2 linked regions of the Homo sapiens genome follow. The protein of the gene in region 1 interacts with the protein of each later gene in a biochemical or structural test. Each region holds a gene or a part of one and is shown in the gene's direction. Other genes may lie near its edges.

Evidence for each region.
Region 2: the proteins of MBL2 (region 1) and DMBT1 form a complex in vitro, tested with the Homo sapiens proteins (one study listed by IntAct).

The regions. Positions count from the first base shown.
Region 1 is NC_000010.11:52,769,875-52,774,387, reverse strand, and holds the start of MBL2 (mannose-binding protein C precursor), read left to right. Parts: upstream 1-1,603; 5' UTR 1,604-1,651; intron 1,652-2,728; exon of another isoform or gene 2,729-2,743; 5' UTR 2,744-2,752; coding exon 2,753-2,939; intron 2,940-3,601; coding exon 3,602-3,718; intron 3,719-4,513. UniProt on the Homo sapiens protein: Calcium-dependent lectin involved in innate immune defense. Binds mannose, fucose and N-acetylglucosamine on different microorganisms and activates the lectin complement pathway.
Region 2 is NC_000010.11:122,577,508-122,581,317, forward strand, and holds part of DMBT1 (scavenger receptor cysteine-rich domain-containing protein DMBT1 isoform e precursor), read left to right. Parts: intron 1-303; coding exon 304-333; intron 334-1,210; coding exon 1,211-1,252; intron 1,253-2,070; coding exon 2,071-2,394; intron 2,395-3,358; coding exon 3,359-3,388; intron 3,389-3,810.

The DNA.
Region 1 (4,513 bases):
AGGCCTCCATAGTACCCCCACCACATGGCCCCGCAGCCTCTGAACTTCTCAGGATGGGCTCCCCAACACCCCAAGCTACATGGCATTTTTCTGAAAGCCATATCAGTAATGTAGTTGAGAATCAAATGAACTATGTTCGTAAAAGTATTCTTCCATCCCTTCTAGATTGTCCCCATTAACCACAGCAAGATGGTTCAAGCCATTAACACACACGATACCCATGATCTTATAGTGCCAAGTGCTGTTCTTTTGCTTCTTATCTCAGTTGAGTGGCTCCTAGATAGTCAAGTCATAAATGTGTGTGCCCATGAAAACTTCTTATTATCACTCACTATTCTAGCTAATTCTCAAGTGCAATCAATACCTCCTGTTTCTCAAGTGTGCCTACCTTCTTAATCTAGCTGCCATTACCCTGACCCAGGCCACTGTCTTCTGCTGCTTAGATCATGGCAAGCACTTCCTTTTAGATCTGCTTTTCTCCAGTCCTGTTCCCCTCAACATCATAGCCAGAACAAGCCTTGCAAAATTCAAATGTGATCACCTCTCCACTACTGCAGTCCCTCTAGTGCCCCCTGGAAGGAAACCCAAAGTCTTTAACACAGTTTACAATTCTTGTTATGAGGATGAAATTTGAAGACATTGTGCTAAGTGAAATAAGCCAGATACAAGGGGGCTATTGTATGATTTCACATATATGAGGTACCTAGGATAGATGAATTCAGAGAGACAGAAAGTAAAACAGAAGTTACCAGTGGCTGTGGGTAGGGGTAAATGGAGAATTCTAGTTTAATGAGTTGAGAGTTTCAGTTTGGGATGATGAAAATCATCCCATGATGTGGTGATGATAGCACAACCGTGTGAATGTACTTAATGCTACTGAGTTGTGTGCTTAATAATAATGGTCAAAATGGTAAATTTTATGTCTATTTTACCACAATGAAAAACTGGAAAAGTAAAGTCAATGACTATAATATCATAAAGTGTAAGTAACATGAGAGAAAATAATTCAGGCTAAGAGGATAGAGACTGCTAGGTAGGACTATTTTAGAATAAGTGATCAAGGTACTGATTTCTCTGAAATTGGAATATTTGAATAGAAGAGAAAGAGCTAGCTGGCGATGCCCGTAAGGGGTCCAGGCATGGAGACATCAAATGAAGAGTCTGAGGCAGGAATGGCCTTAATGCATTAATGGCAGCAAGAGGTCTATGTGGTTTCATGGATGGGTGTGTGCGTGCATGCACGTGTCTGTGTGTATAGTTGGTGTGCATGAGCATGTGTATGCATTTGTGAGTATCTTTGTTTTTCTGTTGGAAACAAGGATGTCAACAGGACTAACTAGGTGAACCTAGCTGTGGTAGTTCAGCAATGAGATTTGCCAAAATGGATGGCAATTGAAAGAGGAATTGTGCTGTATTAAAGCAGACAGCTGCCGAGCACTGTATTGGAGGCTCCTAAATTTCTCATAGTTCTGAGAAGAGCTGTTTATTAATCTGGAGTTGAAGGCCAGGCCCAGGATATCCTTGTTCACAAGGTTGATTGGGCCCTACATTGCTGAGCCCAGCCTCCTCCCTCACTCTGAGGCATCTGCCAGAGCCCCAGGCTAGAGGGCCAGCGTCCTTGTCACTGAGTCCCTGCTCTGCAGAAACACCAGTAAGTCATTTCTGGTGAATAAATCTGGGTTTCCGGATCAAGGGTTTGGGGAGCTGACATGACCCTGGAGGCATGGAGGAGGCTTTCTAGGGGTGGGGGGAGTGGGATGGAAAGCAGAAATCAGGTTGAGGATGTCTCTTTTTCTGCTTGTGCTGGAGCATCTGTGACTTTCCTCCATTATCTGTTCATCTGCAGTGGAGACTGTCTTTGTTTTCAAAGGGAAACTTGGAGGCTTAGACCTATGGGGCTAGGCTGCTGAGGTTTCTTAGGGGGCAATAGCTGGAAGAAAGCTCTGAAGAACAAATGAAAGGTTAATACTGAGAAATGGGAGGAGGATTCAAGGCAAGTTTTCTAATTGCCAGTGGTTTTTGACTCACAGAACATGGGGAATTCCTGCCAGAAAGTAGAGAGGTATTTAGCACTCTGCCAGGGCCAACGTAGTAAGAAATTTCCAGAGAAAATGCTTACCCAGGCAAGCCTGTCTAAAACACCAAGGGGAAGCAAACTCCAGTTAATTCTGGGCTGGGTTGGTGACTAAGGTTGAGGTTGATCTGAGGTTGAGACCTTCCTCTTTGGATCACCAGCTTTCAGCTCAGGGCCTGCCAATGAGTAAATGATAGTTAACAGGTCCTGGAGGGGAATCAGCTGCCCAGATACAAAGATGGGATTCAGGTGGCAGATGGACCCGAAGAGGACATGGAGAGAAAGAGGAAGCTCCTACAGACACCTGGGTTTCCACTCATTCTCATTCCCTAAGCTAACAGGCATAAGCCAGCTGGCAATGCACGGTCCCATTTGTTCTCACTGCCACCGAAAGCATGTTTATAGTCTTCCAGCAGCAACGCCAGGTGTCTAGGCACAGATGAACCCCTCCTTAGGATCCCCACTGCTCATCATAGTGCCTACCTTTGTTAAAGTACTAGTCACGCAGTGTCACAAGGAATGTTTACTTTTCCAAATCCCCAGCTAGAGGCCAGGGATGGGTCATCTATTTCTATATAGCCTGCACCCAGATTGTAGGACAGAGGGCATGCTCGGTAAATATGTGTTCATTAACTGAGATTAACCTTCCCTGAGTTTTCTCACACCAAGGTGAGGACCATGTCCCTGTTTCCATCACTCCCTCTCCTTCTCCTGAGTATGGTGGCAGCGTCTTACTCAGAAACTGTGACCTGTGAGGATGCCCAAAAGACCTGCCCTGCAGTGATTGCCTGTAGCTCTCCAGGCATCAACGGCTTCCCAGGCAAAGATGGGCGTGATGGCACCAAGGGAGAAAAGGGGGAACCAGGTACGTGTTGGGCTGTTCTGTCTCTGCAATTCTTTACCTTCCAGAGGAAACTGCCTGGGGATATGAGGAGACTGATGTCCTATTTGAGTATATTTTTCTCAACTATACTGTAACTCAAAACAGAGATTCAGCTCTCATTCTCTGGCATCTCAGAATTCCACACAGCAGTTTGTGACTAATAGTTGTCTTGCCAGCCCAGGAAAGTGGCCCACAGGTCAGGCCATCCCGTGGGACACAGGATGAATTTTTCTTCTCTGGGTCATTGTCATGTCAGACCCCTATTCACTTCAGTAGGGATGGCACCAGGTTCAAGAGGCCAAAGAAGAGATGGAGTCAGCAAACAAACATAGGTTTTACTGGGGGAATCTGTTTACAGGGAGATCCAGCAGCAGTGGGCTGGACAGGAGAACAACAACTACTGGTAAAAACAAATGCAGTTAATTTTCACTTTGCACCCTCCCTGCAGCAACCTCCACGTGGCAACTTTATTTCTTAAGTTATTGCTCTCAGGTGCCCACCATACAGTTATTGAGAGCAGTGCTCAGAAAGGTCAGTCCTGGGTCAAGGTCTCCTTTCTCCTGAGAAGGGATTGGGCATCAAACTCTTGAAGAGAGAGAGCAAGAACATAGATATTAAGTCACATTTCCTTTGTCTTCCAACAGGCCAAGGGCTCAGAGGCTTACAGGGCCCCCCTGGAAAGTTGGGGCCTCCAGGAAATCCAGGGCCTTCTGGGTCACCAGGACCAAAGGGCCAAAAAGGAGACCCTGGAAAAAGTCCGGGTAAGGACCCCAGCAAGGTCTGAGCTGACTTCACCCAGGGTTCTGAGACCTTGAGTATCTGGTAAGAGGTGCCCCTTCTCCTGTTCCTTCAAAGGAAGATACCCAAATTTGCTTTCTGACCCAGTGCCCTCAGCCCTCTCTTCATTCTTAGAGCCTTAGGGAATTCCTATAAGTGCCTGAGTACAGACTTACAAACTTTTCAAGACAACTCCCTCATCAGGCACTCCCTGTAAGAGCTGAGCCTGGATTCTCCATCAGCTGAAACAGTCTAATGTGAGGCCCTGGTCCTAGAGGGAGAAAACAGGCCATCTAAGTGTGGGCTTATTATACCTATTTTTACAAAAGCATGTAACCATGGTATGTCATATTTTACTTCATAAGAAACCAAGCCAAAGCTTAATAGCTTAAAAACATAGCCGTCAATTTAAATCACAAGTCTGTGGGTCGGCCATGTGATTTCTCTGCTGGTTTAAGCTGGGCTTACCCACATGTCTGTGGTCAACTGATGGCCAATAGTCTCACTCATGTGTCTGGCTGTTGTCTGAATGTTAGCTGGAGTGATGAGGGTAATTGAACCACATCTCTCATCATCCAACAGGGCTTGTTCACATAGCAGTGATTACAGGATTCCCAAGAGTAGAAATAAGATAGGCTTTAGGCTTCTTGAAGACTCAGAGCACATTATCATTTCTGTCAGACTGTATTGGTCAAAACAAGTCACAAGGCCAGCCCAGATTCAAGGAGTGGGGTAATAGACTCATGTCTTAATGCGAGGAGCTGTACCCTATTGAGGCC
Region 2 (3,810 bases), about 70 Mb from region 1:
ATTGCTTAGGGTGGCTGTTTGCTGCTCCCTGGGTGTTGATACCGAGGTTGTTGTGGCCGGTCCCAGGCACCGAAGTGACCTTCATATCCCTGGAGAGTGAGCCACAGGCACAGAGAAGGCAATGCCAGGGGCTGTGGGGTCCCTGAGGGACCGAGGGCTTCACGGTGGGCACTGGCAGGGCCCACTTGGTGGGCGTGTGATGGGCATCAGCTCAGGGTGTAGATACCCCAAGTCACTTCAGCCTTAACTCTACTTGGAGTCACTGAGTGTTTGGTGTCTAATGTTGCTATTTTTTTCTCACAGCTGCCCAGCCTCAGTCAACACTCAGGCCAGGTGAGTCCCCAGAATCCTTCCTCGGGATACCCCTTCTCTTTCTGCTCAGTTACCCCTTCCCTACTCCACAGAGCCCTCCTGCTTCTCTGCAGATACTCTGGGGCATATTATTTCACCCCCAACTCTGTAACTGAGACCCTAGCATGGGGCTTCTTAACCACACATGGGATTTAGCTTCTGCCTTCTCTTCAGTCCATCTCAGCTTTCATCACACAGTTCCATGCTGTCCCAATGAACAACTCTTAGAAGTTCAGAAAGAAGCCTGCTGTTTAATGAGCTTTGGCCTCTTTATATTCAGGGCTGACACAACCTTTCTGAGAATTGAGGGTGAGACCCTCTAATGTTCTGTTGAAGGCAAGGTCAGTACAGGCTTGATACCCCCATCTCTCACTACTTGAAAAACCCCCAGATTCTGCAGGGCCACGTCTGCATTCAGAAGAGGCAGAGGCCATGCTGAGGGGAGAGAGAGGCTAAGAAATGTTTCTGGTGCCTTCACTTACCAGGAAACCTGATTTCCCCCAGGGCGGACCCCTAGTATCCCGAACATTTTAGCTGCAAGTGTCAAGTCTTGGCAGTGGTGTCAGATGAGCCAGTCAGTCCACGCGTCAGTGGATGGTGGGGGATGGGGGTGGTGAAGGTTTCCTAACTGCGAATAGGTCATCCCTCTCTCAGAGAGAGGTGGAAGGGCCTGCATGGTGTCCTTTGTCCCTGAATGAGTTCCCTGGGCAGGAGACCTGGGCAGACACATGGGGAGCAAGTGGCCAGACCTTCGAGTGGAATTGTTTTCACAGTGCTTGCCTGGTCCAGAGAACCGCTTGTTTTTTACCTTTTTCCCTTCAAGTCCAATTGTATCCTTTCTCTTTGTTGCTGTTTACAGAAAGTTGGCCTGTCAGGATATCACCACCTGTACCCACAGAAGGTAAAGAATCCTCTCAACACTCCCTGGGGCTCACTTTCTACCTCTGGATACACTTTGGATTTCATAGTTCACTTATGATTGCCATAAAGAGAGGTGGGGAAGTGGGCTAAGCGTGGGAGGGTGGCAGCAGGTGATAAACAGTTGGCTCAAGAGTCAGCTCGGCACTGGGAACAAGAGCAGGACCTCCCAGAAGATCATTAGGAATCATTAGGCTCATGATAGGATGAGGCTCAAGGTGGGCCCCTTGCTTTTTCATGTTTCTGTGGGTTGGGTAGGGAGGAAGCTGGAGTCTCTGAAAACCCAGAATTAGATGTGATATTGGAGGGTGGAGGGTGCTGGTGACCTGTCTCCTGTGGGATCCTGTTCCAAGTGGTCAGAAAAGATCCTTATCTATGGGCTCAGAACAAGCCCTGGGGGTCTCCCTAATCCTATGGGGACCTCATCCCTGCCATCTCTGGTACTCTGCCAGTCAGATCCCAGATAGGACCATGCTCCTGAATAAGGGAGGGGTCTGGGCCTGCCATCTGGAGCTGAGCAGCTCCATCCTCTGTGTACCCAACTGGGGAGTGGGGCATCCATTCCCATCACATCCACTGGGGTCACAGGTGCTTCCCCAAAAGTTGAGCATCCATAGACCTGGGCAGAGTAGGTTATCAGTGCTACTTTCACGGTGATGAAGCCTAGTCTGTGGTCATATGCAAAGGTGACTGCCTGCCTAGGTGACTTAGTTCATTAGGAAGTACCCTGAGTGTGGAACTTACCTTAGATTCTTGACCTCATGATAGGGATGGATGAAGGGTTCTTGTGTTCCCCTGTAGGATCTGAATCCAGTTTGGCCCTGAGGCTGGTGAATGGAGGCGACAGGTGTCGAGGCCGAGTGGAGGTCCTATACCGAGGCTCCTGGGGCACCGTGTGTGATGACTACTGGGACACCAATGATGCCAATGTGGTCTGCAGGCAGCTGGGCTGTGGCTGGGCCATGTCAGCCCCAGGAAATGCCCAGTTTGGCCAGGGCTCAGGACCCATTGTCCTGGATGATGTGCGCTGCTCAGGACATGAGTCCTACCTGTGGAGCTGCCCCCACAATGGCTGGCTCACCCACAACTGTGGCCATAGTGAAGACGCTGGTGTCATCTGCTCAGGTGGGCCTTCAAGAACTTGGGCTCACTCTCTTGGGGTGGAGTTTGCTCCAAAAGAAACTCCTAATTACATTCTGATCTCCTCACTCAAAGCTTCTATGTTTTCTATGTTTCTGAAGACTTGTCAGCTCTCTGCTAAGAATCCATATGTACTCACTGCCTAGTGTTCCTGTGGTCACTTAGGACAGGGGATCAAACTAAAACAACCCAGAGTTTTTCCCCTTCCTGAGGCAAGGCAAGGAAGAGGCAGAAGAGAAAAGTGCCGGCTCCCCAGGGCTCCATTTCTCCCCTGCTGAGTAGCACGGTGTGAGGGTATAATGGATGCAGCACAGACAGCAAGGCAGGGGAGGGATCCCCTCACTGCGAGGAACTCTGAACTAAAGATGCTTGGCTAAAAGTGGGTTCTCAGCTGAGACCCAGTGAGGAGGTCTGGAAATAGAGGCTCAAGGGTTAGGAGTGCAAATGGGTGTCTGTTTGTATCAGGCCTGGGTTGCGTGGGGTTGGAGTTCTTGACCTCAGCTCTTCTCAGAACGCTGCTGAGCATTGCCTGTGTTCTAGGTCTGGTGAGGGGAGGGCAGTCCCCATGAGGCCAGCCAGACATGGCCTTGTCATTGCCTGTGATTGGGGCTTGAAGATCGCACAAGGGATTTTGGCTGGAGTGGCTTCCTCAGCCTTGCTGACTCAGGAACACCTAAGATGTGCAAGGGAGTGGGTTGGTTTAGGTCAACCGGGTTACCCTGGGCAGACACAATTTGATCACCTCAGAGCTGGCAATAGTGGACAGGATCTGCCTCGACCCCTTACACGGTGCATCTCTGTGGGGATGTGCATGGCAATGTCCCTCCCTGTGTGATAGGAACTAGGATGGACTGAGTGTCAGACTCGCTCATTTCTTTCCCTCCTCGTTCCAGTTTTGCCGACTTCTGTGTAATGTTCCTGATCTGACCTTCTCTTCTCTTTCTCACAGCTCCCCAGTCCCGGCCGACACCCAGCCCAGGTAGGTCCCCAGTGTCCTTCCTCAAAATGTCCCTTCTCTTTCTGCCCAATCACCCCTTCCACACTCCACAGAGCTCTCCTGTTTCTCTGTGTGGATACTGTGGGGCATATTATTTCCACCCCCAACACCGGCTGTGTAACTGAGATCCCAGCACAGCGCTTTTTAAACACACACAGGATTGAGGAGGCCTCTGTCTTCTTTTCAACCCCTCTCAGCTTTCATGAAACAGTTTCATACTGTCCCAGTGGACAACCCTTACAGGTTCAGGAAGTGGCCCCATGTTTAATGAGCTTTGGTCCTTTTATATTCCGGACTCACATATAGTTTCTGAAAATTGAGGGTGTCACCCTCTGACCCGTTCAAGGCATCGTCAGGGCAGGCTCGATACCCCCATCCATCACTGCTGGAAACATTCCGAGATT